Regions from separate parts of the Homo sapiens genome. Here region 1 is linked to region 2. Evidence: fine-mapped expression QTL. Tissue or cell type: whole blood. Region 2 holds a variant in brackets; the other region holds the start of a gene. All regions are shown on one strand. Distances are from middle to middle. Region 1 holds the start of ZNF266 (zinc finger protein 266). Region 2 holds the start of LOC112268250 (a long non-coding RNA gene).

What was found. PIP is the estimated chance that this variant, and not a neighbour inherited with it, causes the effect.
Region 1: it holds the start of ZNF266, and the variant in region 2 is fine-mapped to the expression of ZNF266 in whole blood (INTERVAL, PIP above 0.99).

Annotation. Positions count from the first base shown.
Region 1 is chr19:9,427,346-9,443,591 of GRCh38, forward strand. ZNF266 (zinc finger protein 266) reads right to left here and starts at 8,228. Exons shown (of 11, transcript NM_001370374.1): 1 at 7,939-8,228; 2 at 7,763-7,848; 3 at 7,453-7,514; 4 at 6,730-6,890; 5 at 6,323-6,441. It overlaps LOC105372269 (a long non-coding RNA gene), which reads left to right and starts at 8,296. Exons shown (of 3, transcript XR_007067133.1): 1 at 8,296-8,427. RefSeq lists an enhancer at 8,019-8,148.
Region 2 is chr19:9,397,161-9,412,203 of GRCh38, forward strand. LOC112268250 (a long non-coding RNA gene) reads right to left here and starts at 9,900. Exons shown (of 3, transcript XR_002958434.2): 1 at 9,690-9,900. The variant T/C (reference allele first, on the strand shown) is at 10,834.

The sequences.
Region 1 (16,246 bases), 31 kb after region 2:
GTCTTGCTCTGTCACCCAGGCTAGAATGCAGTGGCACAATCTCGGTTCACTGCAACCTCCGCCACCCAGGGTTCAAGGGATTCTATTGCCTCAGCCTCCCGAGTAGCTGGGATTACAGGTGTGCGTCACCATGCCCAGCTAATATATATATATATATTTTAAGTAGAGACAGGGTTTCAGCATGTTAGCCAGGCTGGTCTTGAACTCCTGACCTCAAGTGATCTGCCCACCTCGGCCTCCCAAAGTGCTGGGATTACAGGTGTGAGCCACCACACCCGGCCTGGACAACATGCCCTGTTCAGTGCCTATTTCAACAGCCTCTCAGCTGCAGCTTGCCTCTCCCTCCAATGGGACACAACACACCTTTTCCAGGCTACCCAACAGATCTGTCATCACATACGATCTTTGCAAACGAGATCTTAACAACATCCACCTTCTCCAGGAACACAGGTATGCACCGCACCGATAACAGCCTTCCCCAAGGAAACTCTTGACATGTCATTAAGGGGAAGTAATTCCAGTATCTTTTAGTAATTTTTGGGTTCTGGTGGCAACATATGCCTGATTTACAAATTATAATTTAAATTAAAATCAACAAGCACTCCTATTAATGCCTCGAAGAAAAAAAAAAGAAAACGGGGGGAAAAATCAACTTCCTAAAAGGACTCCCTTCATGCTAGAGACTGGCAACTTTTTAAATGCCTGCTGGAGTCTCTAGACCACTTACGATGGTCATTAGCTGCCCCAGGCCGTCTAGGAGAGACTGCCCCTCCTGACTTCCTGTTATTCACCAGTAAAACAAGTGACTGGCCATCTACTGGGCTCTCCTGGAAACAGAGGATCTCACAGACCTGAGCCTGTGATCCTCCTATGCAGCTGCCCACTGTGCTCTAGGTCAGGGAAACAACCCCCCATAAGCTCTGCCTGGCCACTGAGGCCTCCTTAGGCCACGATGAAGCCAATCTCAGGCCCTTGGGTCTAATCCACCCGCAGAAGGCAGTGGCTTCCCCTGTTCTCAGTCCCTTGCCTGATGCCAGCGTGCTGAAGGTGGTCACTCCTCCCTCCCACAGGTCCCCTGACTACCTGGAAAGCCCCTGGGATTAACTAAGTGAACACTAATGGGAGTTCATAGACTGTGCAAAGGCCACTGCTGACCATTATAAGTGATGGGGCTCAGTGGAATGCTGCTGCCTTCCATCCCTTAGCCAGGATGTCCCTAATAAAGGACAGGACCCAAGAAACAACGTGCCTGGCCAAACTTCAGGCAGCTGTCTTAGCGCTGGATGCCCAGGTCAACAAACCGACCCACCTTCTTCATGGTTACAATAAACTATTGGGTCATTACCTAAAAACTGTCCCTTCCAGGGTGGGAAAAAAAAAAAAAAAAACCCTGGGAATCTCTTGTCTGACAGATACCCAAAATATAAAGCAAAATCCCATACCTCTCCAAACACTAAAGGCACAATACGAGGCCTTGCCAGGACACTACTTATTCCCTTCAGAGTTACAGACATTATTAGTAACCTACATATATATTTCACTTCTTTTTTGTCAATTTAATTTTTTTTTTAAGAGGCAGGGTCTCGCTATGTTGCCCAGGCTGGTCTCAAACTCCTGGGCTCAAGCAATCCTCCCACTTCGGCCTCCCAAACTCCTGGGATTACAGGGGCGAGCCACTGTGCCCAACCCATGTTTCATTTCTTAAAATACATAATGCTAGCGCCTCGAAAAATATATTCAATAGAACTTTCATTTCCCTAATAGGTCTCAGATAACTGGTTTCACTGAAAGACAGAAAAATGTCCTCAAATAACTACTTTTCAAATTCCAGTCCAAAAAACAAACTCCTGAAATTCTCTATCATGCTCTAGGGCTTAACTTATTTTCAATCTTGCCCCCATCCCACAAACACTGAAGGCCAAATCGAGGGTGCACAGTCGCCTGGGACTTACTAACATTAGATTGTCCCAGAGGCCCGGCAGCTGCTCATCTGATAGGGGACCCACCTGAACCTAAACTTCCACCAAAAGACAGAAACAAAAACATGTTGTCAGGTACAGCTACATATCATTCTGTTAACGGTTCGTCTTACTAGATGCTTTGTTGGTTTACAACCTAGAGGGCCACATCTACTTCAATGGGTATCCACTTTATACCCCAGTGACATCCTAGACGACCTTGTCCTAGCCCAAAATATCACCGCTGGAAACAACATTGCCTCCAGCAACACAGCCCTGACCCAAGACTCTGATGGTGGAGATGACTCCACCATTACACTAAAACCTCCACACAGTGACATCCGTGGACTGCCTCTCCTAAAACACAAATGGACACAGAACATTTTTTTCTTTCTGAACTGTCTGCTTAGCCCCTGATCCTGGTAGCGTACTTGCATTCTGCTCAAATGTGCACACCCACATACCCAAGCCTGAAGGAAAATCTGGTAGGAGTTACTAAAATTAATGGAGATTACTGTTTTCCCCAAGAGGCACCTGCCTCATGTCGGTAAACTCCTTAACCCCAGGGAGGGGACCACCTACTCCATGATGCCTTCTAATGAAGAAGGAATTCATGAATTTTACAAGTACAATCAAAGACGAGCAAAAATTTTTACTTTTTCCTGCAAAAGCTAAGTGTAGCGTAGCCCCTCCTCCTACCCCACCCCCCCACCCAGTAGCCTAAGAGAGAATACTAACTGCCTGTTTTTCCTTCTGTGCTCAGCCAGCCTTATCTGTACTTGCTAGTTTCACACTCCTTGAGGCTCAGTGAGTTCCTGCTTCACCTCCCTAGCGCAGCTGCAAAGTTACAAGGTTAATACAGAAACATGGTTTCCCAGGGATGTGGAACATGTAGTATAGATAAATGTAAAAGACTGATCAACTGCCTTCGTTCTCGCTTCTGTAAGTACGCTTCCTGTATCAGTAGCTCCCGGCCAGAGTGCTTTAAAGGTGGCTGCTTTCTTTGTCCAGGGCTCAGACTTTCCTGGATGCCAGTCCTCCTGAGCCAGGTGATCACCTTTTAAAGACCTTTCCTGAACTCACTCTGTTCAGTCTCTCCCATCGTTGATCGTCCCGCAACACTACTACCCTTCTCACTTTCTATCTTGACCTCCAGCCTTGCCTATCCAACCACACCACTCTTGCCCCTTGGTTACACACAATACCACTAACCTTTACATATGCTTTACTAAATCATCAGCTCATACCCTCCAACATAACTGCCCTACATCTATTTTTAGGCCTGACATAAGTTATTTGGAACCCAGTCAGACCCCATCACCTTTGGCTTACTTAAAACTTTCCCCTCCCTGTGTGCTGTTTGTGACATAGCCTACTTGTTCCTCACCTCACTGACCCCAAACCCAACACACCCCACAGCTGCTGACCATAATGAAACCTACTGGCCAACATCAGTCATGTAAATCAGTTCTCCCCACTGCTCAGGTCTACCTAATCCACAACCACGCTGGGAAAGCCTGAGGGATAAGGCCCATGGACCGTAACAAAGGCACAGTCCCACAGGTCCTCTCTGTCTCATTCCCCACCCACTGGTTAGCACCCGGCTGTCTCCTGAGTTGCTGTCAGGACCTCAAGGGCAACCCTCTTCTCGCGGATCTGTAAGGAATAAAATGCTTCTGCTACTTGATGTGTTTTGTTGTGTTGCCTTTTCTGTACCTAACCCACCCAACACACCAGAACACCTCTCCTCTTGGTCGGGACAGAGCTAGAATTTACAGCCACTCTCCAGAGACAGAAGCCTCAGGACCTAATTAGAGGAACATACTAAAAGGGGACATGGGATGGACACTGCAAAAGGGAGCGTTGCCTGCTGGATACAATTGCGACACGGTGGTCAGCAGTGTGGGTGTGAGGGCATTGGAGGGTGCTCTGTCCACGCCATATGCCCATAACACAGTCCTTAGGATACCACAAAACCCTGGCCCAGTCACCACCACCCTGTGGCCCTCCTAATATGGACGCCACATGCTCAAAGGACTCCCACTAGCAGAGGCACCCTCTGCACATGTGCCGACTGGCTTGATGGCTTGTGTCCCTCATGACACAGACAATGCGCATGCCAGGATGCATGCTGCTGCATGACCTGTACCCCAAAGGTTTGTTCCCAAAGGCCTCCGAACGTGAACACTGAAGTCCCAGGCCTTGCAAACAAAGTGGCATCCAAATTTCCTGTGCATAGCTGCCCATCACCATCAGTGTGAGTGTGCCCCAGAGGTGTGTTTGTCACAGCACTTCCAGGGCAGACACGAACCAGTCCAAGCCTCATAGCTACAGTGGTGTCCTGACTCCCCCTACAGGCTGATCCACCCATTGCAGCTGGCCTTTGCCTTGAAACACTGCTTCAATCTTCCCTAAGGACTATGACTAACTCCCGCCTGAGTAACCCAGCAAACTTCACCATCCAGTGGGCTACAGCCACACTGTGGCCAAATACTGTAATATGACCCCAGAGATCCCCACCTGCTGGCATTCATACCCCTGGATAACACCCTCCTGTTGAGCGCACGCACGACCTTTGACCAGTTTCTAACAGAAGAATAAGCAAAAATGAAGAGAATGCAGATGTAATTGAGGTCTCAAGTCAGTTGGGTTTTGTTTTGTTTTGTTTTTAGACAGGGTCTCACTCTGGTTGCCCAGGATGGAGTGCAGTAGCGCAATCTCAGCTCACTGCAGCCTTCACCTCCCTGGTTCAAGTGATTCTCCTGCCTCAGTCTCTCAAGTGGCTGGGATTACAGGCACCCACCACCATGCCCGGCTAATTTTTGTATTTTTTTTAATAGAGTCAGGGTTTCACCATGTTGGCCAGGCTGGCCTTCAACTCCTGACCTGAAGTGATCCACCCACCTTGGCCTCCCAAAGTGTTGGGATTACAGGCGTGAGCCACTGCACCTGGCTTACTTTTATCTTGATACACATAGTGTATACATTACTGTTGCTGTAGGGCATGTATGTGTATAAACCTAGTATGTACTGCCAACAGTTTTTGAAATTGGTTTGCCAATACACTCTCCAAAAAGCAGTATATGCACATCCTCAGCAACTTTATATCAGAATCCCCATCAATGATTTCACTACATGCGGCTAGTTCACTGGAACCCCTAAGTGCCAAACAGAGAAAATGTATAGAATTTAAGTCTTCACTTAAAGTCATCAGCAGGTTCTTGGAAACTGAGACTTTAAGCGAAATGACATACAACAAAGCGAATTTTTTCACATGCTAATTAATATAAGCGAGTTAAGCTCCTACAGCATATTTCTGGTCACAAAAACATCACTAAACTTCTAAATAAAGACCCCAAACACTTCTAATATTAAATATTGAAATAAATGTGAAATATATATACATTTAAGAAAGACTAATAAAAATAGGCTATTTATCCAATTTTTGATGAATTGGTATGTGATGGCAGTTAACAGTGGTGGGTTAAAACAAATAAATGCTTCCAAAGCAAAAACTCTAAGGACCACCTCCTACCACCAAGAAGCTCAAAAACAATAACAAATGGGGCCAGCTTGCTAAGTGGTACCATTTACTGTTGTACAGTTGTATCATTATCAAATGTTTTAGGAATTTTTATTTTACAATAGTTTGTATTCATTCATTCATTCTCCAATCCACCTATTCCAGTTCCAGAATGAAAATGGCCAGAGCCCATCCTAACAGCTCAGGGCACACACACACATAGTGGGACAATTTAGACACACCAATTAAGCTAACATGTGCATCTTTGGCATGTGGGAAGAAACCAGAGTACCCAGAGAAAACCCATGCAGACATGGGAAGAACGTGCAGAATCTACAGAGTGGCCCTACTGGAATTTGATTTTTTTTCCGTCATCGATGTTATAATTAACAGACATTATTCTAAGATCTGTTGTATTTCCAGGCCATGTGGCCCCTTCACAGCTTTTTGGCAGCCCACATTGGCAGGTGAGTTTTCTGGTCATTTACTTACATGGATTGTATCAAGCCAACCCCCTAGGTGTATGAGTGTCTATAAGGAGTCACGCAGAGTGCTTACTCTGGACATTCCTTCAGGGAAACGAAGGACTAATTTAGGTAGGAGAAGGAACCCAAAAGTGAATTGAAAAAAACAACGAGAGAAGTTTTGTCTGTTTATGAATATACATATTTCCTAAGACTAATAATTAACATCAGTGAATTTTCATGGAGAGCTTATTTTTCAGTGATCAAGCACTGATTCTCATTAATCCCTTGAATTAATTTCTTATTCATGTAATTAAAACACATTCATGCTTCTCCTATTTTCCCTTGATTTACATCATTTGTCAGATATCACTTACTTTGGCCAGGCACAGTGGCTTATACCTGTAATCCCAGCATTTTGGGAGGCCGAGGTGGGTGGATCACTTGAGGTCAGGAGTCTGAGACCAGACTGGCCAACATGCTGAAACCATCTCTACTAAAAAAAAAAAAAATACAAAAATACAAAAATTAGCCAGGCATGGTGGCGCACACTTGTAATCCCAGCTACTAGGGTGGCTGAGGCAGGAGGATGGCTTGAAAACCCAAGAGGTGGAGGTTACAGTGTTTCAGTGAGCCGAGATCCTGCCACTGCACTGGAGCCTGGCAACAGCGAAACTCTGTCTCCCAAAAGATATCACTTACTATTTCCTGTCATACATTTAAGATTAAATTATCCCACCACATTGTTTCCCCAACCAAAGAAAGAATACTGACTCTGTCAAACCTGGGAGTAATCTTTGATGCACTCCTCTCTCTCACCATAGAAGTGGAGTCAGCCAATTCACAGAATGCTTTGCCCAGCTCTTATTTCCTTCCCCTTCAGTATGGCTAAATCATACCATATTTTTGGTCTCAGCTTGCATATCACTCTTTTCTTAGCATTGCCTATTCCAAAGAAAAATAGAGAAAATAATTCTGTCCTCTACTTTACTTACAGACCTTCATCAATTTGTAATACACTTATTTGCTTGGTTACATGACAGCCTCCTCCACTAGTTTACAACCTCCCTAAGAACAGCCCTAGGCTGAATTTTTTTACTATGCCTTAATTAACCATTCAGACACTCATCCATTTACAGGATACACCAATAAATGAAGGATACATTTAAACACGGCACAGAATACAATCAGAACTACCAAAATGTATAACTTTCTGAAAGAACGAGTGACTGCGCAAAAAGACAATATAACGGATAAACAGTGTCTGCTAGTTTTAAAGAGACTAAAAGACATGAAACTTGGATACGTAATAGATCCCAAAACAATCAAAACCATATATTGGAACAAAGTGGAGAACTGTACCTTTTTACACAGGGTACATATTAACAACATTTTAAATTTTCTGGGGTAATAGTATTATGGTTTTAAAAGGACATGTCTTTATCCACAGGACACGTATTACCAAGCATTTAAACCTTAAGTGTCACGCCTGCAATGTTCAACTTACTTCAAAGCCTCCATTCCTTCTTCCTAAAAGCCCGTTTTGAAGCTCTGTGGGGAGGTACAGGCCTAGGAAGTTCAGATAAAAAGAATAGCTGAGTATTCTTGCTTTTCTTCAGTAGAAAGACTTCTGGTCTACAAACGTTTATATTCACATAGAGAAATAACCACACCCCAGATACCTAAAAAATAGCTTTATGTTTCTACCTGAATGTAGAGTGTCAAAAGTAAATACAGGATGCGCAAAGAGAAAAACAAATTCTCAGATAAAACAGGAGGAAGAAGCCCCCGAAACCAACTTTCACCCCAGTACTCACCGCGACGAGCTGGACTCGCCAGGTACGGGAGATTGGGGGGATGAAGGACCAGTCAACCTGATTCGAACGACGAAAACTCGTTGTTTCTGGAAAAAAAAAAGTCACAAAGAATTGCTTTGGAAGAGTTTGAAGCGGCAATCACCGTGTTTGCAAAAATCGTGAGGAAGCGCCCTTACGACAGATCCCGAAACGGCTCCTGGCCCAGGGCCGTCGCAGTGACAACTCGAGTGGCTTTTTGAACCTGGCGGCGCCAGGAGGACCCGCGCGGCCCCGGCGGACGCGAGCGGAGCAGGCAAGGTCTCTCTAAGGAGGCCCCTCGGCGGCCTGGGGCAAACCGGTACTTTCGCCACCCCTTCCACCGCTGGCTCCCACCCGTCATCCGACCTCGCCAAAGCTGTATTAAGCCCAAACGCCACCAGGAAGAAAACGGGTTTGGCGGCGCGGAGAAAGCGCCGGAAAACACAGCAGCGCTCCGTGACGTCACTTCCGCCTCCAGCCTCAAACCTGGAGGAGCGCTCGGGAACTGCAACCTCAGCCGAGCTGAACAACCTCAGGCAGAGAGATTCTGGTTTACTCCCCAGTGGCTACGGAGACGCCTTGGAGGCCTTGGAGTCTGCTCACCTTGAGGGATGGAGGCCAAAAGGGGCCCAGAGCACAAGGCTGAGGTTAGAACCAGCCCTGCGGACGGGGCTAACCTAGGGTGGGGTCGGTGGTGTTGGCAAAGTTAGAGGTGGGGGCTCCCCCACAGGATGTGCACAATGCTCACAAAAAGCTTTTATTCTCACCTCCTCCCACGTTCCTAGCACCCTCAAAATGATGCTTCCTTTGATAATCCTGCCAGTCCATGATATGGCCTATCTCCTCCATTCATTCAATCTAGTTTTAGTTTTTTATTTTGTTTTTGTTTGAGACAGGGTCTCACTGTGTAGTCCAGGCTGGCGTGCTGTGGGGCGAAACTCATGGGCTCACGCCATCATCCCGCCTCAGCCTCCCGAGTAGCTGGGTCTACAGGCGCAGGCCACCATGCCCGGCTAATTTTTTTTCCCCCAGAGTTGAGGTATGTTACCCAGGCTGATCTCAAACTCCTGGGCTCCAACAATCATCCCGCCTCAGCCTCCCAAAAGGCTGGGATTACAGGCGTGCACCACGGCGCCGGGCCCAATTCAACTTGAGGCCAATATTTCCCCTTATTTCATTTATCTGGACGCCATGCTAAATTCTAATAGTTGATTCCTTTGTGTATTCAATATGCTGATACTTTTTGTAAATGTTGATTTTTTTTTCTTTGACTAATATATTGTTTTCTGAGATCTTACAGTGAGTTCCAGGGCCTCGTTGTAAAATACCGCGTTGTAAAATAGCACTGATATCAGGCATTCACTTCTGCAGGAGTGATTCTAGTTTCTCCAGAAATCGTTTTTGCTGTGCTTTGTAGTGGGTGGCCTTTATGGAGTTAATAAAGTTATTTTGAACACTGTTTTACTAACATGAAGAACTGTTCATGTACATTATCAAATATTTTGTGAATCTACTGAACTGGTAACTATTTTGCAGTTAATTTTTCAACTCAAAAAGATTTTCTTTTTTAAGTTTCCTCTCTTGCATTAAGAAGTCTTCATAAACTCTAGATTACATATAGATTTCCTAATTTTCTTCTGCAGCATATTACTTTAAAAACATTGAAATCTTTCATACTCATGGAATGTGTTTCAGTATGTGGTGTGGGATAGTGGATACAATATCTCTTTCCTCCAGAAACACGGCCAATTATTGTAGTACCACATATTGATAAACTGTCCTTGATTTACTGATTTCAAATTCCATGTTTATTAAACTATAAATTCCTATGTATACCTGTATCTGATTCTAGACTCTATGCCAGTAATACATTTACTTATGCCAATATCAAGATCATAATCTTTTCATTCCAGTGGTTTTGTATCAACTAATAATATTCCGTGGTAATAATAATAATAATGGTAGCTTTTTTGTTTGTTTGTTTTTGAGACAGTCTTGCTCTGTCACCCAGGCTGGAATACAGTGGTACGATCTCGGCTCACTGCAACCTCCACCTCCTGAGTTCTAGGGATTCTCCTTTCTCAGTCTCCTGAGTAGCTGGGATTATAGGCACGCGCCACCACGCTCAGCTAATTTTTGTATTTTTTTTTTTTTTTTTTTTTAGTAGAGATGGGGTTTCGCCATGTTGGCCAGGGTGGTCTCAAACTCCTAACCTCAGGTGATCTGCCCACCTCAGCCTCTGAAAGTGCTGGTGTGAGCCACCGCACCTGGCGGTAGCTGTTTTTTAAATCTTACTACCCTAAATGCTTAATAGACATTAAATTTTTACGCTCCCAATGATGTGGCTATTATTGTGATTTTTCCCTTTTGGTTTTTAGACCAGCTGTATTGAGATACAATTCACATATAACCAACACAGTTCACCCACTTAAAGCTATATAATTCAATATTTTTTAGTACATTCGCAGTGTTGTTCAAACATAATTTTGGAACATTTTAATCACACTAAAAGAAATCTTTGAATGGGAAAACCCATTTACCTCCTCTTTAAGCTCCAGGGAACCACAAACCTACTTTATCACTACAGATTTTTCTTTTGTAGACATTTCATATGGATATACTCATACAATTTATTTTTATTTTTGTATAGACAGGGTCTCACTATGTTGCAAGGCTGATCTCGAACTCCTGGGCTTAAGTAGTCCTGCCTCGGCCTCCAAAAGTGCTGGGATTATAGGCGTGAGCCACCATGCCCGGCCTAAAAATCATACAATCTTTTGTGAATAACTTTTTTCACTTAGCCCGTTTTTCAAGGTTCATCTGTATTATAGCCTAGATCATTCTATTTTATTGCTGAATGATATTCCATTCTATGTATATACCATATATGATTTGTCTTCAGTTGATGGACATATGGTTTGTTTCCACTTTGGGGGTGTTGTGATTAATGCTGCTATGAAAATTCACATATATCTTTTTGTGCATACTGGCTTTTATTTTTTGAGAAATCACAGCTCACTGCAGCCTCTACCTCCTAGGCTCAAGCGATCCTCCCACCTCAGCCTCCTGAGCAACTAGGACCACAGGCATAAGCCACCACACCCAGCTAATTTTTGTATTTTTTTGTAGAGACAGGGTTTTGCCCAGGCTGGTCTCAAACTCCTAAGCTCAAGCAACCTGCCCGCCTCGGCCTCCACAAAGGCATAAGCCACCACGCTCAGCTGGTTTTTATTTCTCTAGAGTATATATCTGGGAATGGAATTGCTGAGCCATACAGTAACTATCTAAGAATTTGAAGAACTGCCACACTGTTTTTGAAAGGGGCTGTACTGTTTTACATTCCCACCAGAAATGTATGAGGGCTCCAACTTCTCTACGTCCCTGCTAACACTTTAGTGTTTTTCATGTTAACTGTGTTAGTGGTGTGAGGTGATACCTCATGATTTTGACTTGTATTTCCCTAACACTAGTGATGTTCAGCATCATTTAATGTGCTTTGTTAGCCATTTGTATGCTTCTTTGGAGAAATTTCTGTTCAATTCCTTTGCCCCTTTTAAAATTTGTTTTCTGGCTGGGCACGGTGGCTTGTAATCCCAGCAATTTGGGAGGCTGAGACAGACAGATCACTTGAGGCCAGGAGTTCAAGACCAGCCTGGCCAACATCGTAAAAGATAAAAAATCAGCCAGGCGTGATAGCACACACCTGTAATCCCAGCTACTCGGGAGGCTGAGGCAGGAGAATCGCTTGAACCCGGGAGGAAGAGGTTGCAGTCAGCCAAGATTATGCCACCGCACTCCAGCCTGGGTGATAAAGTGAGACTCTGTTTCGAAAAAAAAAAAAAAAAAGGTCCGGGTGCAGTGGCTCACGCCTGTAATCCCAGCACTTTGGGAGGCCAAGGCAGGCAGATCACCTCAGGTTGGGAGTTCAAGACCACCCTGACCAACATGGAGAAACCCTGTCTCTACTAAAAATACAAAAAAGTAGCCAGGCATGGTGGCACATGCCTGTAATTTCAACTATTCAGGAGGCCAAGGCAGGAGAATCGCTTGAACCCAGGAGGCGGAGCTTGCGGTGAGCTGAGATGGTGCCATTGCAATCCAGCCTGGGCAACAAGAGCGAAACTCTCTATCTTAAAAAAAAAAATTCCATTGAGTTGCAAGAGTTCTTTATATATTCTGAAGAGAGGTCCTTATCATATATATGATTTACAAATATTTTCTCTCAATAGGTTTTCCTTCTCTTTCTTGATGGAATATTTTAGAATACTAAACTATATAATATTGATGAGTGTCCTCTGAAGTACAAGTTTAATGTTGATAATTTTTTGTTTGCAATGTTTTTGATACTGCACCTAAGAAAACAGTACTAAATCCAGTATCATGAAACTTTTCTGCCTATACTTCTGGGAATTATTGTAGGTCTTACATGTATGTTTAGGTCTTTGATCCATTGTCAGCTAACTTTTGTGGGGTTTTTAAATATTTTAATTTTTTTAGCTTAATCCCCAATGTGGTATCTGTTAACTTTTGTATGTGGTATAAAGTAAAAGCCCAAATGCATTCTTTTGCAGTATGGTATCAATTTCTCCCAGAACCATTTGTTGAAAACATTCTTTTCATTCTTCATTGAATTACCCTGGCAGCCTTGTAGATCTGTTGACCATATATGTGAGGGCTTACTTCTGGACTCTCAATTCTATTCCATTAATTTGTATGTTTATCCTTAAGCCAGTGCCACATTGTTTTGATTACTACAATTTTGTAGCACTTTATGAAATCCAAAAGTGTGACTCCTTCAACTGTGTTCCTCTTTTTCAAGACTGTTTGGCTATTTGGTGTTCTTTCCATTTCTATATAAAGTTTATGATGAGCCTGTCAATTTCTGCTATGAAGCCAGTGCTAAATTAAAAAAAAAAATAACATCAGTGGAACTTGTTAAAGCATAGTAAGGCAGACTTTATTCAGTACCATCACGTTAGGTATAGGGACCACTGCAGTAGGATTTTGCAGTGGAGGTGACAGAGTAGGCTAACTCTGAATAATTATAGCATGAGCAAATGGGAATTTATAGTCAAGTTAAAGAGTAAAGGTCAGTGAGTGGAAAATTGCCAAGAGGAATATCAGGGGTATGGAGGATGGTGGATAAACTGACCTAACATGATGTCTGATCACTTTGGCCTGTAATTGGTAGATAGTAGAGAATCGGGAACCTGATCAGCTATAAGGGTGATCTGATACTGAGGGTGGTAGGTTCTTATTGTACTGACTTAGCAGGGTTCTTGCTAAAACTCAATATACAAAAGTGTACACATGGGCCTAAGAAAAGTTTAAGGAGCTTGACTATAGTTGAGTAAAGCAAAGACTCTGTCACCATCTGGAATTTTGATAGGGATTATGTTTAATCTATAGACCAACTTGGAGAGTACTGCCATCTTAAAAATAATGTTCAGTATTCTTGGTCAGGTGTGGTGGTTCATGACTACAATCCCAGCACTTTGAGAAGCCGAGATGGGCAGATCACTTGAGGTCAGGAGTTCGAGACCAGCCTAGCCAACATGGTGAAACCCCATATCTACTAAAAATACAAAAATTAGTTGGGCATGGTGGCACATGCCTGTAATCCCAGCTACTCGGGAGACTGAGGCAGGAGAACTGCTTGAACCCAGAGGCAGAGGTTACAGTAAGCCGAGATTGCACCAGTGCATTCCAGCTTGGGCAACAGAGTAAGACTCCCTCTCAAAAATAATAAGTATTCTAATCCATCAACATGGGGTGACTTTCCATTACTTTTCATCTTTATCAACATTTTGTGGTATTCAGTATGGAAGTCTCGCACATCTTTTATCAGATTTATTCCCAAGTAGTTTATTATTTTAATACTATAATAAATGGAATTGTTTTCTTTTCTTTTCTTTTCTTTTCTTTTTTTTTTTTTTTTTTGGAGATGAAGTTTCGCTCTTATTGCCCAGGCTGGAGTGCAGTGGTGCCATCTCAGCTCACTGCAACCTCCACCTCCTGGGTTCAAGCGATTCTTCTGCCTCAGCCTCCTGAGTAGCTGGGACTACCGGCACGCGCCACCACACCCAGCTAATTTTTTTTTTTGTATTTTTAGTAGAGACGGGGTTTCACCATGTTGGCCAGGCTGGTCTCGAGCTCCTGACCTCAGGCCTCCCAAAGTGCTGGGATTACAGGCATGAGCCACCACGCCCAGCCAGAATTGTTTTCTTAATTTCATTTTTGGCTTGTGCCGTGATAGTATACATAAATACAACTGAGTTTTCTATGTTGATCTTGTTACCTGTAACCTTGTTGAACTTGTTTATCAGTTTTAATAGTTTAGTGGATTCCTTAGGATTTCCTACATAAAAAATCACATCAGTAGATAAACTTCTCCATTCCATTCTGGATTCATTTTCCTTTCCTTGCTCACTTACTTTTTAAATTCCAAATGGATATGGAATTTTTCATCTTCCCTCACAATACTTTCCTCTCTCTCAAATGTAGTATAGTAATTAGTTGTGTTGAAAACATTCCTGATAATAAGCCATTCTTGCAATCCTAAAGTAAAACTGTTCATAGGGCACTATTTTTTCTCATAACTGGATTAGTTTTGCTAGAAATTTTATTTAGAAGATTTGCATACAGATGAGTTTTCTTTAAAATATCATTACCTAGGACTAATTTAATCTTACTAAGTACCACTAAATCTTGTCTTATCATATTTGAGTAGATGCATTCACTTATTTGATTCTTACAGTACCAAATCAGGCAGCTTATTATAAAATTCATCCACAGTTTACAGAAGATCAGACTGAGATGGCCAGGCGTGGTGGCTCACGCCTGTAATCCCAGCACTTTGGGAGGCCGAGGCAGACAGATCACGAGGTCAGGAGATCGAGACCATCCTGGCTAACACGGTGAAACCCCGTCTCTACTAAAAATACAAAAAATTAGCCGGGCACGGTGGCGGGCGCCGTAGTCCCAGCTACTCAGGAGGCTGAGGCAGGAGAATGGCGCGAACCCGGGAGGCGGAGCTTGCAGTGAGCCAAGATCAGCCACTGCACCCCAGCCTGGGCAAAAGAGCCAGACTCTGTCTCAAAAAAAAAAAAAAGGAAGATCAGACTGAGGCAAGAGAGGCCATTTAACTTCTACAAAATTACGTAGCCAGCAAGAGGCAGAGCCAAGACGTGTACTCTAGCAGTCTGACTCTATTCTGTACTTCACTTTGCTCTATAACCAGTACAGCTTTAAAAGTTTCCTCACCTTTTCAAATGTGTTGACCTCTGTGAAATGCTCTGAGATATTTCTTTTCTTTTCTTTTTTTTTTTTTTTTTTTGAGACAGAGTCTACTCCATCACCAAAGCTGGAGTGGCACAATTTCAGCTCAATGCAACCTCCGCCTCCTGGGTTCAAGTGATTACTGTGCCTCAGCCTCCCAAGTAACTGGAATTACAGGCGTGCATCACCATGCAGGGCTAATTTTTGTATTTTTAGTGGAGACAGGGTTTCACCATGTTGCCCAGGCTGGTCTCTAACTCCTGAACTCAAAGTGATCCGCTTGCCTCAGCCTCCCAATGTGCTGGGATTATAGACATAAGCCACCATACCTGGCCTGAGATATTTATTTTCATGCCCACCTGGCTGAAATTAGTATATATTTGGAGGACCAACTCCCCTTACCTAAAATTAATGTTTCAGTATTTCAACCCCTATCCTTTTCTCTTGTTTTCTCTTCATTAAGAGAAAAGTCTCAGCCACATGTGTGGCTCACGCCTGTAATCCCATCACTTTGGGAGGCCAAGGCAGGTGGATCACGAGGTCAGGAGATCGAGACCATCCTGGCTAACACGGTGAAACCCCGTCTCTACTAAAAATACAAAAAATTAGCCGGGTGTGGTGGCACACGCCTGTAATCCCAGCTACTTGGGAAGCTGAGGCAGGAGAATCGCGTGAACCCAGGAGGTGGAGGCTGCAGTGAGCTGAGACTGTGCCACTGCACTCCAGCCTGGGCAACAGGGCGAGACTCTCAAAAAAAAAAAAAAAAAGGAGATATAAGTCCCTTAAGGAGGCCAGGCGCAGTGGCTCATGCCTGTAATCCCAGCACTTTGGGAGGCTGAGGCAGGCAGATCACAAGGTCAGGAGATCGAGACCATCCTGGCTAAGACGGTGAAACCCCATCTCTACTAAAAATACAAAAAAAAACTTAGTCGGGCGTGTTGGTGGGTGCCTGTAGTCCCAGCTACTCGGAAGGCTGAGGCAGGAGAATGGTGTGAACCCGGGAGGCAGAGCTTGCAGTGAGCCGAGATTGCGCCACTGAACTCCAGCCTGGGAGACAGAACAAGACTCCGTCTCAAAAAAAAAAAAAAAAAAAAAAAAGTCCCTTAAGGAGACCACAAGGATATGAAAGAGGCATGTGAATCCAGGCCTACGCACAGTTCCACTACATGAATACATGGAAGCCATTCC
Region 2 (15,043 bases):
AAAAAAAAAAAAAAGCAAATTAAATCCAAAGTAAGCAGAAGAAAAGAAATAATAAAAATTCAAGGCCAGACATGGTGGCTTATGCCTGTAATCTCAGCACTTTTGGAGGCCAGTGTGGGAGGATCACTTGAGGGCCAGGAGTTTTGAGACCAGCCTGGGCAACACAGCTAGACTCCATTTCTACAAAAATTTTAAAAGCCAGGCATGGTGGCACATGCCTGTACTCCCCTCTATTTGGGTGACTGAGGTGGAAGCATCCCTTGAGTCCAGGAGTTTGAGGCTGCAGTGAGCCATGATCATGCCACTGCACTCCTGCCTGGACAACAAAGCAAGACACTGTCTCAAACAAAAAACCTCAAGCAAAAGTCAGTGAAATTGAAAACAGAAAATAGAGTAAAATCAACAATACCAAAAGCTGGTTCTTTGAAAGGATGAATAAAATAAACCTCTCATCAGGCTAACAAAGAAACAACAGAGAAGACACAAATTACTAATAGCAGAAATTAAGAAGGGACATCACTACAGATCTCATAAATATGAAATGGGGGGCGGAGCCAAGATGTCCAAATAGGAACAGCTCCAGTCTACAGCTCCCAGCATGAGTGATGCAGAAGACGGGTGATTTCTGCATTTCCAACTTAGGTACCGGGTTCATCTCACTGGGGAGTGTCAGAAAGTGGGTGCAGCGCACCGAGCGTGAGCTGAAGCAGGGCGAGGCATCACCTCACCTGGGAAGCGCAAGGGGTCAGGGAATTCCCTTTCCTAGTCAAAGAAAGGGGTGAGAGACAGCACCTGGAAAATCGGGTCACTCCCACCCTAATACTGCACTTTTCAAATGGTCTTAGCAAACGGCACACCAGGAGATTACATCCCACGCCTGGCTCGGAGGGTCCTACGCCCATAGAGCCTTGCTCATTGCTAGCACAACAGTCTGAGATCAAACGGCAAAGTGGCAGTGAGGCTGGGGGAGGGGCGCCCGCCATTGCTGAGGCTTGAGCAGGTAAACAAAGTGGCTGGAAAGCTTGAACTGGGTGGAGCCCACCGCAGCTCAAGGATGCATGCCTGCCTCTGTAGACTCCACCTCTGCGGGCAGGGCACAGCCAAACAAAAGGCAGCAGAATCCTCTGCAGACTTAAATGTCCCTGTCTGCAGCTTTGAAGAGAGCAGTGGTTCTCTCAGCATGCAGCTGGAGATCTGAGAATGAACAGACTGCCTCCTCAAGTGGGTCCCTGACCCCTGAGTAGCCTAACTGGGAGGCATCCCCCAGTAGGGGGAGACTGACACCTCACATGGCTGGGTACTCCTCTGAGACAAAACTTCCAGAGGAACATTTGCTGTTCACCAATATCCACTGTTCTGCAGCCTTTGCTGCTGATACCCAGGCAAACAGGTTTGGAGTGGACCTCCAGCAAACTCCAACAGACCTGCAGCTGAGGGTCCTGACTGTTAGAAGGAAAACTAACAAACAGGACATCCACACCAAAACCCTATCAGTACATCACCATCATCAAAGACCAAAGGTAGATAAAACCACAAAGATGGGGAAAAAACAGAGCAGAAAAACTGGAAACTCTAAAAATCAGAGCGCCTCTGCTCCTCCAAAGGAACGCAGCTCCGCATCAGCAATGGAACAAAGCTGGACGGAAAATGACTTTGACGAGTTGACAGAAGAAGGCTTCAGATGATCAAACTACTCCAAGCTAAAGGAGGAAGTTTGAACCCATGGCAAAGAAGTTAAAAACCGTGAAAAAAAATTAGAATGGCTAACTAGAATAGCCAATGCAGAGAAGTCCTTAAAGGACCTGATGGAGCTGAAAACCAAGGCACAACAACTACATGACAAATGCACAAGCCTCAGTAGCCGATTCGATCAACTGGAAGAAAGGGTATCAGTGATGGAAGATCAAATGAATGAAATGAAACAAGAAGAGAAGTTTAGAGAAAAAAGAATGAAAAGAAACAAAGCCTCCAAGAAATATAGGACTATATGAAAAGACCAAATCTACATCTGATTGGTGTACCTGAAAGTGACAGGGAGAATGGAACCAAGTTGGAAAACACTCTGCAGGATATTATCCAGGAGAACTTCCCCAATCTAGCAAGGCAGGCCAACATTCAAATTCAGGAAATACAGAGAAAGCCACAAAGATACTCCTCAAGAAGAGCAACTCCAAGACACATAATTGTCAGATTCACCAAAGTTGAAATGAAGGAAAAAATGTTAAGGGCACCCAGAGAGAAAGGTCGGGCTACCCACAAAGGGAAGCCCATCAGACTAACAGCTGATCTCTCAGCAGAAACTCTACAAGCCAGAAGACAGTGGGGGCCAATATTCAACACTCTTAAAGAAAAGAATTTTCAACCAGAATTTCATATCCAGCCAAACTAAGCTTCATAAGTGAAGGAGAAATAAAATACAGACAAGCAAATGCTGAGAGATTTTGTCACCACCTGGCCTGCCCTACAAGAGCTCCTGAAGGAAGGACTAAACATGGAAAGGAACAACCGGTACCAGCCACTGCAAAAACATGCCAAATTGTAAAGACCATCAAGACTAGGAAGAAACTGCATCAACTAATGAGCAAAATAACCAACTAACATAATGACAGGATCAAATTCACACATAACAATATTAACCTTAAATGTAAATGGGCTAAATGCTCCAATTAAAAGACACAGACTGGCAAATTGGATAAAGAGTCAAGACCCATCAGTGTGCTGTATTCAGGAAACCCATCTCACGTGCAGAGTCACACATAGACTCAAAATAAAGGGATGGAGGAAGATCTGCCAAGCAAATGGAAAACAAAAAAAGGCAGGGGTTGCAATCCTAGTCTCTGATAAAACAGACTTTAAACCAACAAAGATCAAAAGAGACAAAGAAGGCCATTACATAATGGTAAAGGGATCAATTCAACAAGAAGAGCTAACTATCCTAAATATATATGCACCCAATACAGGAGCACCCAGATTCATAAAGCAAGTCCTTGGACACCTAGAAAGAGACTTAGACTCCCACACAATAATAATGGGAGACTTTAACACCCCACTGTCAACATTAGACAGATCAACAAGACAGAAAGTTAACAAGGATATCCAGGAGTTGAACTCAGCTCTGTACCAAGTGGACCTAATAGACATCTACAGAACTCTTCACCCCAAATCAACAGAATATACATTCTTCTCAGCACCACACCACACTTATTCCAAAATTGACCACATAGTTGGAAGTAAGGCACTCCTCAGCAAATGTAAAAGAACAGAAATTATAACAAACTGTCTCTCAGACCACAGTGCAATCAAACTAGAACTCACGATTAAGAAACTCACTCAAAACCGCTCAACTACATGGAAACTGAACAACCTGCTCCTGAATGACTACTGGGTACATAACGAAATGAAGGCAGAAATAAAAATGTTTTTTGAAACCAATGAGAACAAAGACACAACATACCAGAATCTGGGACACATTCAAAGCAGTGTATAGAGGGAAATTTATAGCACTAAATGACCACAAGAGAAAGCAGGAAAGATCTAAAATTGACACCCTAACATCACAATTAAAACAAATAGAAAAGCAAGAGCAAACACATTCAAAAGCTAGCAGAAGGCAAGAAATAACTAAGATCAGAGCAGAACTGAAGGAAATAGAGACACAAAAAACCCTTCAAAAAATCAATGAATACAGGAGCTGGTTTTTTGAAAAGATCAACAAAATTGATAGACCACTAGCAAGACTAATAAAGAAGAAAAGAGAGAAGAATCAAATAGATGCAATAAAAAATGATAAAGGGGATATCACCACTGATACCACAGAAATACAAACAACCATCAGAGAATAAACACCTCTACGCAAATAAACTAGAAAACCTAGAAGAAATGGATAAATTCCTTGACACATACACCCTCCCAAGACTAAACCAGGAAGAAGTTGAATCCCTGAATAGACCAATAACACGCTCTGAAATTGAGGCAATAACTAATAGCTTACCAACCAAAAAAGTCCAGGACCAGATGGATTCACAGCCGAATTCTACCAGAGGTACAAGGAGGAGCTGGTACCATTCCTTCTGAAACTATTCCAATCAATAGAAAAAGAGGGAATCCTCCCTAACTCATTTTATAAGGCCAGCATCATCCTGATACCAAAGCCTGGCAGAGACACAATAAAAAAAAGAGAATTTTGGACCAATATCCCTGATGAACATCAATGCAAAAATCCTCAATAAAATACTGGCAAACCGAATCCAGCAGCACATCAAAAAGCTTATCCACCATGATCAAGTGGGCTTCATCCCTGGGATGCAAGGCTGGTTCAACATACGCAAATCAATAAACGTAATCCAGCATATAAACAGAACCAACGACAAAAACCATATGATTATCTCAATAGATGCAGAAAAGGCCTTTGACAAAATTCAACAACCCTTCATGCTAAAAACTCTCAATAAATTAGGTATTGATGAGAGTATCTCAAAATAATAAGAGCTATCTATGACAAACCCACAGCCAATATCATACTGAATGGGCAAAAACTGGAAGCATTCCCTTTGAAAACTGGCACAAAACAGGGATGCCCTCTCTCACCACTCCTATTCAATATAGTGTTGGAAGTTCTGGCCAGGGCAATCAGGCAGGAGAAGGAAATAAAGGGTATTCAGTTAGTAAAAGAGGAAGTCAAATTGTCCCTGTTTGCAGATGACATGATTGTTTATCTAGAAAACCCCATCGTCTCAGCCCAAAATCTCCTTAAGCTGATAGGCAACTTCAGCAAAGTCTCAGGATACAAAATCATGTGCAAAAATCACAAGCATTCTTATACACCAATAACAGACAAACAGAGAGCCAAATCATGAGTGAACTCCCATTAACAATTGCTTCAAAGACAATAAAATACCTAAGAATCCAACTTACAAGGGACATGAAGGACCTCTTCAAGGAGAACTACAAACCACTGCTCAATGAAATAAAAGAGGATACAACCAAATGGAAGAACATTCCATGCTCATGGGTAGGAAGAATCAATATCGGGAAAATGGCCATACTGCCCAAGGTAATTTATAGACTCAATGCCATCCCCATCAAGCTACCAATGACTTTCTTCACAGAATTGGAAAAAACTACTTTAAAGTTCATATGGAACCAAAAAAGAGCCCACATTGCCAAGTCAATCCTAAGCCAAAAGAACAAAGCTGGAGGCATCATGCTACCTGACTTCAAACTATACTACAAGGCTACAGTAACCAAAACAGCATGGTACTGGTACCAAAACACAGATATAGACCAATGGAACAGAACAGAGCCCTCAGAAATTATGCCACATATCTACAACCATTTGATCTTTGACAAACCTGACAAAAACAAGCAATGGGGAAAGGATTCCCTATTTAATAAATGGTGCTGGGAAAACTGGCTAGCCATATGTAGAAAGCTGAAACTGGATCTCTTAAAGACTTAAATCTTAGACCTAAAACCATAAAAACCCTAGAAGAAAACCTAGGCATTACCATTCAGGACATAGGCATGGGCAAGGACTTCATGTCTAAAACACCAAAAGCAATGGCAACAAAAGCCAAAATTGACAAATGGGATCTAATTAAACTAAAGAGCTTCTGCACAGCCAAAGAAACTACCATCAGAGTGAACAGGCAACCTACAGAATGGGAGAAAATGTTTGCAACCTACTCATCTGACAAAGGGCTAATATCCAGAATCTACAATGAACTCAAACAAATTTACAAGAAAAAAACCACCCCATCAAAAAGTGAGCGAAGGACATGAATAGACACTTCTCAAAAGAAGACATTTATGCAGCCAAAAGACACATGAAAAAATGCTCATCATCATTGGCCATCAGAGAAATGCAAATCAAAACCACAGTGAGATACCATCTCACACCAGTTAGAATGGCAATCATTAAAAAGTCAGGAAACAACAGGTGCTGGAGAGGATGTGGAGAAATAGGAACGCTTTTACACTGTTGGTGGAACTGTAAACTAGTTCAACCATTGTGGAAGTCAGTGTGGTGATTCCTCAGGGATCTAGAACAAGAAATACCATTTGACCCAGCAATCCCATTACTGGGTATATACCCAGAGGATTATAAATCATGCTGCTATAAAGACACATGCACATGTACGTTTATTGCAGCACTATTCACAATAGCAAAGACTTGGAACCAACCCAAACGTCCATCAATGATAGACTGGATTAAGAAAATATGGCACATATATACCATGGAATACTATGCAGCCATAAAAAATGATGAGTTCATGTCCTTTGTTGGGACATGGATGAAGCTGGAAACCATCATTCTCAGCAAACTATCCCAAGGACAAAAAACCAAACACCACATGTTCTCACTCATAGGTGGGAATTGAACAGTGATAACACATGGACACAGGAAGGGGAACATCACACACCGGGGCCTGTTGTGGGGTGGGGTGAGGGGGAGGAATAGCATTAGGAGATATACCTAATGTTAAATGACGAGTTAATGGGTGCAGCATACCAACATGGCACATGTATACATATGTAACTAACATGCACGTTGTGCACATCTACCCTAAAACTTAAAGTATAATAAAAAATAAAAATAACAAATACGAAATGGATAATAAAGCAATTTCATGAACAATTCTACATCCACAAATTTGAAAGCCTAGATGAAATACATCAGTGATGTGAAAGAAACAATATGCCTGTATTAGTCTGTTTTCATGCTGCTTATAAAGACATACCCGAAAGTGGGCAATTCACAAAAGAAAAAGGTTTAATTGGACTCACAGTTCCACGTGGCTGGGGCGGCCTCACAATCATGGTGGAAGCCAGGGAGGAGCAAGTCACATCTTACGTGGATGTTGGCAGGCAAAGAGAGAGCTTGTGCAGAAAAATTCCCGTTTTTAAGACAGTCAAAACTAGTGAGACTTATTGACTATCACAATAACAGGATGGGGAAGACTTGCCCCATGATTCAATTACCTCCCACCGGGTGCCTCCCACAACATGTGGGAATTCAAGATGAGATTTGGGTGGGGACACAGCCAAACCATATCACTGCCAAAACTCACACAAGAAGAAACAGACAATCTAAATAGATCTGTATCTATAAAGAAAAAGAATAATAACATTCCAAAACAAAAAGCACCAAGTCCAGATGTGTTCACTAGTGAATTCTACCAAACATTTAAGGAAGAAAGTAAGAAAGTATGCCAGTTTTCTACAATCTCTTCCAGAAAAAGCAGAGGGAATACTTTCTAACATTCTGTGAGGCCAGCATCACCCTAATACCAAAACGAAAGACATTAAAACAACAGAGAACTACAGGCCAACACCATGGCTCACAAATACAGATGCAAAAAGTTTCAACAAGGTCGAGCATGGTGGTTCATGTCTGTACTCCCAGCACTTTGAGAAGCCAAGGTGGGTGGGTCACTTGAGTCCAGGAGTTCGAGACCAGCCTGAGCAACATGGCAAAACCCCATCTCTTTAAAAAAAAAAAACCAAACAAACAACAACAACAACAAAAACCAATCCTGTATTAGTGAGGGTTTTCCAGAGAAATAGGATTAATAGGATTTATATAGGTATATACCACACCTTTTTTCTCCACTTCTTTTCCCCACAACACAACAAGCGGATGACAATATTTGTGAGTCATAACAAGTTAAATGAAACAACATGGTTAACTTAACAAACTTCTCTATAAACTTTTCTTGATTCTCTAAAAACTGTCCAATTTTTTCCTTGCATAAAGCCAAATTAGACACAGAAAATGGCACATGTTCCCTTACTTCCACTAGCTACCACCCACAATGCACACAGGTTTCACTTTAGGGGCCGATATGGGGCCCCACTCCTGGTGATACTGGTTGGGCTTACTCTCTTGGGAAGTGGGAGGGATAGGGGCTAGTTTGCATAAGGGGGAGGCGTGAGTGATGACCTTGGGGTGGGTTCCTTCATTGAAAAACTGGTAGGAAGCCCCTCAGAATTGGGGGACTGAAGAGACCCTGGGGAAAACGTAAGCCTTCTAAAGGGAGCAGCTAGGAGGGGATCCCTTAGGCATGGCATTCTGGTCCCTGGAATTAACATGAGCCTGTAAAGAGCCATAAAAGCCTGTACATAAGGGACGTCTTCCCATTTTCCTTTTTACAAAATAAGTCTAATTGTAAATATCATTATAATGTATAGAACCATATGTAGGCCAAATCTGTTAGTTTTCTAATCTGTATTGAACCCAAACAGTGCTGCAACAAAAAATGAGTCTCTTCTTAAGACGAATTTGAACTTGCTCCAATAGCGTAAAAGACACTCCAGTGCCAAGTCCTCTGGGATGCTTGCTGTTGTCCCCAGGTCGACTAAGGATCGCTACAGGGGGTTTCAGCCTAAGTTTAGCAAATGTCTAGTTAATTTTCCCTTTTAAATTCCCACCTTCCAGAAAGGTGTAAATATAAATAGCAGGGTGTTATAAAAGTGGATTAGGAGCTAAAAATGGACAGTTGGATGTTGAACCTAAATTCCAGAGGGCTGGGCAGAGAGGAGCTAAACAAATGGTAACTGTGGAAGGGAGGAAAGGAAGGGGGTAAGCAGCATTGCCCAAAGGGAGACCTCAGAGGCCCTGACCACCTGAGAACCTACTCAATAGTGGAGACACCAAAAAAAAATATTCATGTGGCACAGACCTGTTTTAGCTAGTCTTCAATTTGGTGGGGTGTCCAAGCCCACTAGACTCCAGAGTCTAGTCCCGCCTCCTACCTCACCGTCAACTTACTTTTAGCTTATAAACCTTCGTATGTGCAAGGCGCGGTGGCTCGTGCTTGTAATCCCAGCACTTTGGGAGGCCCAGGAGGGCAGATCACGAGGTCAGGAGTTAAGCCTGGCCAACATGGTGAAACCCCGTCTCTACTAAAAATACAAAAATTAGCTGGGTGTGGTGGTCTGCGCCTGTCATCCCAGCTACTTGGGAGGCTGTGGCAAGAGAATCACTTGAACCTGGGAGGTGGAGGTTGCAATGAGCGGAGATCGTGCTGTTGCACTCCAGCCTGGGCAATAGAGTGAGACTGTCTCAAAAAAAGGAAATGACAAGAGATTAATTACTTAGTGAATCTAGGGCAATGGTGGTTTGTTGTACCAGACTTTGACATTTTCTTCAGTTTGAAAATTTCCAAATTAACAAGGTAAGGAAAATCCACTTGGAAAAGGCTCTTGCTGTTTATGGTCAACTCAATTCCCATTTGTGATACAAAAACAAGCCTGCATGTTCTCTTTTTTTCTCTGGAGATGCTTGTATTTTGAAGCTTAGAGATTTACAGGGTTCTGAGCTGAATACCGAGCTGATTTTCCGTGACAGTAAAATTTGCATTTACATGCATTCATTCACCCATGCATTTAATTGTGTCAGATGCCCGTACTCCCTAACAATGAGTTTCTAATTTCTCCACCTGTACATAATTTACCAAATATAAAGAACATCCCCCAAAAGAACAAATTCACCCAGTGTTCACCCAAACTGGCTGGAATCCCCTGGTCGGTGAAGCTGCTGGGGACAAAACAACCACGACTCCAGCAAGAGATTTTCTTCCTTCTGCAGAAAGTCTGCAAAGGCTGATGAAGAGGCTTGGGAAAGGGGAGACCGCGGACGAAAAGGCCCCACCGAAGCTCGCTGCCCGCACTCCCGACCCGCCTTTTACCTGGACCCAAGCCCCCAGCGGCGCAGGTGGGAGTCTGGGAAGAAGTGCGGTGTCGGCAGGAAGTCCCAGCGCGACGTCCGGGAAAGCCACAGGAGGAGGCGACCTGCAGGAGGCTACCCTTTGACCCCAACCCTACTCTCCAGTCCTCCTAGTCTGGTGGGAGCAACCTTAGACTGGTTGATGTGGAAGGAGGCGGGCCTGCACGCGGAGTACGGCATTCACTTCCGTTTCCGGGAGCGCACTTCCGTTTCCAGGCATGAGGGCAACGGGGGAGGGGGGGGAGGTGACCTGGAATGGGCTGAGAAACAGGAGCCACGAGAGCCGCGTGGTGACGTTAGAAGGGCGCTACAGCCGCGACTTTCCAAAGCTAGTAGAGAGATCCCAGCGTCCCCCGGGAAAGGCAGAAGGGGCGGGGCGATACCAAGACGGAGACAATGGGGCGGGGCGATGCCCTGGAGGCGGGATTGCCTGTGGGAGAGCCACCCTTCAGGCCATGCAGACCCCAGGTGAAATCTGCACAGGGGTCTCCTGGAGCCGTGGGAGGGGTTCCCCTTCTTCTCCTTCAAGAGCGTTTTTATGTTGCCCTCTTTATGGATGGAAAACAGAGGCATGGACGGGCGGTGTAACTTGGCCACATTCACTAACCTAATGAAGAAGTCTCTGAAACTGGATCCTGGGTCGCTGGAGGCCTTACACCCTCCTCCAGGGACTATGATAAATATCAGTCTACAAGCAAAGAAAAACTTTGGAATTTAAAGCCCTGTGTACTGTAGTTCTTCCTATATTTTTGACAACCAAACCAGAACCTTTATATCACACACATACACACACACAAACCCTTTTTGGCATTTTCTAAATATCCGTGTGAATAAAACACCTGCCAAGACGTGGTAGGATTTAAAAGTGATTTGGGGCGGGTGTTTTATTCACGTCTGCAATCCCAGCACTTTGGGAGACCCAGATGGGAGGATTGCTTGAGCCCAGGAGTTAGAGACCAGCCTGGGCAGACCCCTGTCTCCTAAAAACATAAAAAAGTGATAGGGAATAAATGTAGAATTGCCATAGGTCATAATTTGTTTAATATAAAGCTGCTACGCTTTTAGGTCTGACAAACTTCCTCTCCCTGTGCGGTTGTTTCCTGATA[T/C]AACCCACGTGTTCCTCATCTCACAGCTGCTGACTCCTATAAAAGCTAATGACCAACACCACAGTCATGTAAATAAATTCCCCCCTTCATTTTTTTCCCTAGCCAATCGACAGTCACGTGAAGAAAGACTGAAGGACAAACCCATGGTCCTTAAAAGGCACAGTCCCACAGGCCCTCTCTGTCTCTTCATCTCTCCAGTAACCTACCCACAGGTTGAGCACCATACTGTCTCTGGACTTCCTGTGGGCCATTATTCAGCACCCCTAACTTCTCTGGAATCTATAATAAACTTTTTCCTTTCATTGATTTTGGTTTCACTTTCTCATTGTGTCTCACTTGACACACTTGAACTTAACATCCTCCACCAGCTCTCCTAGAGAGTGGCTATCTCGGGCCGGACATGTTGGCTCAGGCCTGTAATCCCAGCACTCTGGGAGGCCAAGGTGAGTGGATCACCTGAGGTCAGGAGTTCAAGACCAGTGTGGCCAACATGGTGAAACCCCGTCTCTACAAAAAATATAAAAATTAGCTGGGCATGGTGGGAGATGCCTGTAATCCCAGCTGCTCGGGAGGCTGAGGCATGAGAATCACTTGAACCCAGGAGGCAGAGGTTGCAGTGAGCTGAGATTGTGCCACTGCACTCCAGCCTGGATGACAGAGCAAGACTCTTAAAATAAAAAAATTAAAAAAAAGAGTGTGGCTATATTGGCTTTTGGCCTTTCTCAAGAGAGAAACCTCAAGACCGAGTTGGAAAATAAACATTAATACTAAAAAATGATACCAACGTATGATCCAGCAATTCCACTTCTGGGTATATTAATCAAAAAGTTGAAAGCAGGTACTGGAAGAGCTATTTGTACACCCATGTTCATGGCAGCTTTATTCACAATATTGAAAAGGTGAAAGCAAATCAAACTGTGGTATAGCCATACAATAGATTATCCAGCCTTAAAAAAGGAAATTCTGAGATGTGCAGAATTTGAACATGAACATGAACATGTTCCTTGAACATGTTCCTTGATCATGAACATGAACATGAACCTTGAACATGTTACGCTAAATGAAATAAACTAGTCACAAAAAGTCAAATACTGGGACTTCACTTTTATGAGGTACCTACAGTAGTGGGGTTAACACAGACACATGTTGGAACAACTAAGTTCCTCTTCAAAGACTCAACTTTCTGATCATAAGTTATAAAAGTTGTACATCAATCCTACCCCCTTTCTTCTCTTCTGTTTCCACAAATCGCACATTTACCCTATTTGGAAAAGTTTAAGTCTTAGCCAATCGGGATCAGCTTAGATTGTGCAGTCCAATCCCAGCCAATTGGGGGACGACACAGAAACAGGAACTGCATTAAATTAAAAACTCCTTCCCTTCTTTGTTCATCGTGCTCTTGCGATCGTAACGGGCACAAGCAGCACCCTTCTGCAGAAGTAAAGGTGCCCTGCGGAGAAATTTTCTAGGGGGTTTCTTTTGGCTATGTCGAGCACTTGTTTCCAACAGAGAATTGAATGGTGTTTGCCAGAGATTGGGAAGGGAGCAGTAGGGAGTTAGTGTTTACTGGGTTCAGTTTGGGAAGATAAACATTTTTTAGTGGGATGATGGTGACAGTTGCCCAACAATGTGAGTATACTTAATGCCAGCGAAGTGGACACTTAAAATGGTTAAAATGTAAACTTTATGTAATATACTTTACCACAATTCTTAAAAAGTGAATAGAGGATTATTAGTTTTATTTAATGAAGCCTCCAAAAACCAGAGATCTGGGGCAAAAGAAATTCAAAAGCAGTTTGGCTAGCAGTGCATTTTATACAGTCTCTGCTAAATAAAATACCCACTGATAAGTAAAGGGTTTGGAATTGTATTGCTAACATTAGATTTATACATTAGAAACGTGTGTTTAAAACAGACATTCTCTATCAACTGGCAAATAAAAGATTTTTAAAGGATTAGGTTTTAAAATAAGTATTAAATTAGATGCTGCACCAAAGAATATATTGGTTTAAAAAATTGCTCAGTGCCGGGTGCAGTGGCTCATGCTTGTAATCCCAGCACTTTGGGAGGCCAAGAGGGGCAGATCATCTGAGGTCAGGAGTTCAAGACCAGTCTGGCCAACATGGCAAAACCCCATCTCTACTAAAAATACAAAAATTAGCTGGGCGTGGTGGCACGTGCCTGTAATCCCAGCTACTGAGGCGTCTGAGGCAGGAGAATCACTTGAACACGGGAGGCAGAGGTTGCAGTGAGCCAAGATCTCTCCACTGCACTCCAGCCTGGGCAACAAGAGCAAAATTCCATCTCAAGAAAAAAAAAAAAAAAAAAAAAAAAAAAAGCTCAGCTGCTGTGTCAGAGAATTAAACAATGAGTTAAAAACCTAACACTAAACAGTATTTTTAAATGTCCTCATCCTGTCCTCACCCAGATTCCAAGCATCAAGGAGTCACGCTCTTGAGGAAAGGTGCGCCTTGTCCAGGAGCTCCAGAAGCCACCTGTGCAGAAATTTCACCAGTCTCCAAGTCCTGCAGAGCAGTCACATGGCACTCCAGACCCACCCTGCAATCCACTGCCCCAAAAGTCACCATGGGGTGAACACAGCTCAACATTGGTGGAAGGTGTGGGTGCCTTAACGCATTCATTAACCAATAACTGTGGGCTTTGCTCTAGAGACAGAACTAAAGCCCCCACCCTCTTCTACTCTGTTAGTGGAGCCTGCGGTTTTTATGGGCACAGGATGAGGGCGGGGCAGGCCATGAGTGGTTTTGAAAAAGGCAACATTTGAACTGGAAAAGAAGGATGTGAAGTTATCACTTTGGGCCAATCTGAAAAGTTACGTACTGCACAATTCCAACTCTATGACATTCTGAAAAAGGCGAAACTATGGAGACAGTAAAAAGATGAGTGGTTGTCGGGCTGGGGAGAGGGAGGGAGGAATAGTGGGAGGACCGATGATCTGTGGACTTTGGGTGATAATGAAGTGGCAATGCAGGTTCATGAATTCTAACAAATGTATTACTCTGGTGGAGTATGTTGATGATGGTGGAAGCTATGCATATGTAGTGGCCGCAGGAATATAGGATGTCTTTGAACCTTCCACACTATTTTGCTGTGAACCTAAAACTGCTCTGAAACATGGATTTTTTGTTTTGAGACAGCGTCTGACTCTGTCACCCAGGCTAGAGTGCAGTGGCACAATCTCAGCTCACTGCAACCTCCTTCTGGGCTAAAATGATTCTCCTGCCTCAGCCTCCTGGGTAGCAGGGACTATAGGCATAAGCCACCATGCCCAGCTAAGTTTTGTCTTTTTTGTAGAGGCGGGGTTTCACCAGGTTACCCAGGCTGGTCTTGAACTCCTGAGCTCAAGCAATCCACTCACCTCAGCCTCTCAAAGTGCTGAGATTACAGCTCTGAGCCACTGCACCAGGTGAACACGGATATTTTAAAAGAGTAATAAAACATTTTCAATTGGTCAGAGTTTTCCAATCTGAGAAGTCAACATTATTTAGCTGAACTACCACTCTCCAAAACCTCTTACACTAATAGGATTTCTCTCTACTGCAAAACCTTACTTAAGCAATCCCTGAGATAACAGCAAAGGGCTTTCCATGTTTCACAGACTGTGTGGTCTCATTGCAAGTTACTTCCTGCTGGGTTGTGAAGAGATTCTGACAGCTTTCCCATATTTCTTACATTCACATGGCTATGAACTGTGATACAGTAAGATATGAGAAGCAAATGAAGTACTTCCTGCATCCTTTTTATAATCACAGGGTTTTACCCCAGTGTGAATTCTCACAAAGATATTAAGGCTTGAGCAATGAAATAAGGTGACACCATATCCCTGGGATACACAGGTTCTTCCTCCAATGTGAGATTTCATGTTAACATTATGGCATGTGAGATATTTAAAGGTTGCCATACATTCCCCTACATTCCCAGGACATTTGCAGTCTAATTTTATTTTATTTTTTTTGAGACAGAGTCTTGCTTTGTCACCCAGGATGGAGTGTAGGGGTCTTGGCTCACTTGCAGTCTAATTTTAGATATGTAAAATGAGCCTCGTGGAATTAGTAAAAGCTTTCCCACGTGCCTTACAGCAGAAGTGTTCTCTACACTGTGAATTTTTATTTCTCATGTAAGGTATAAACATTTAATGAAATCTCTCCACATTACTAATAATGGAGCCTCAGTCCACTCTAAGTCACTA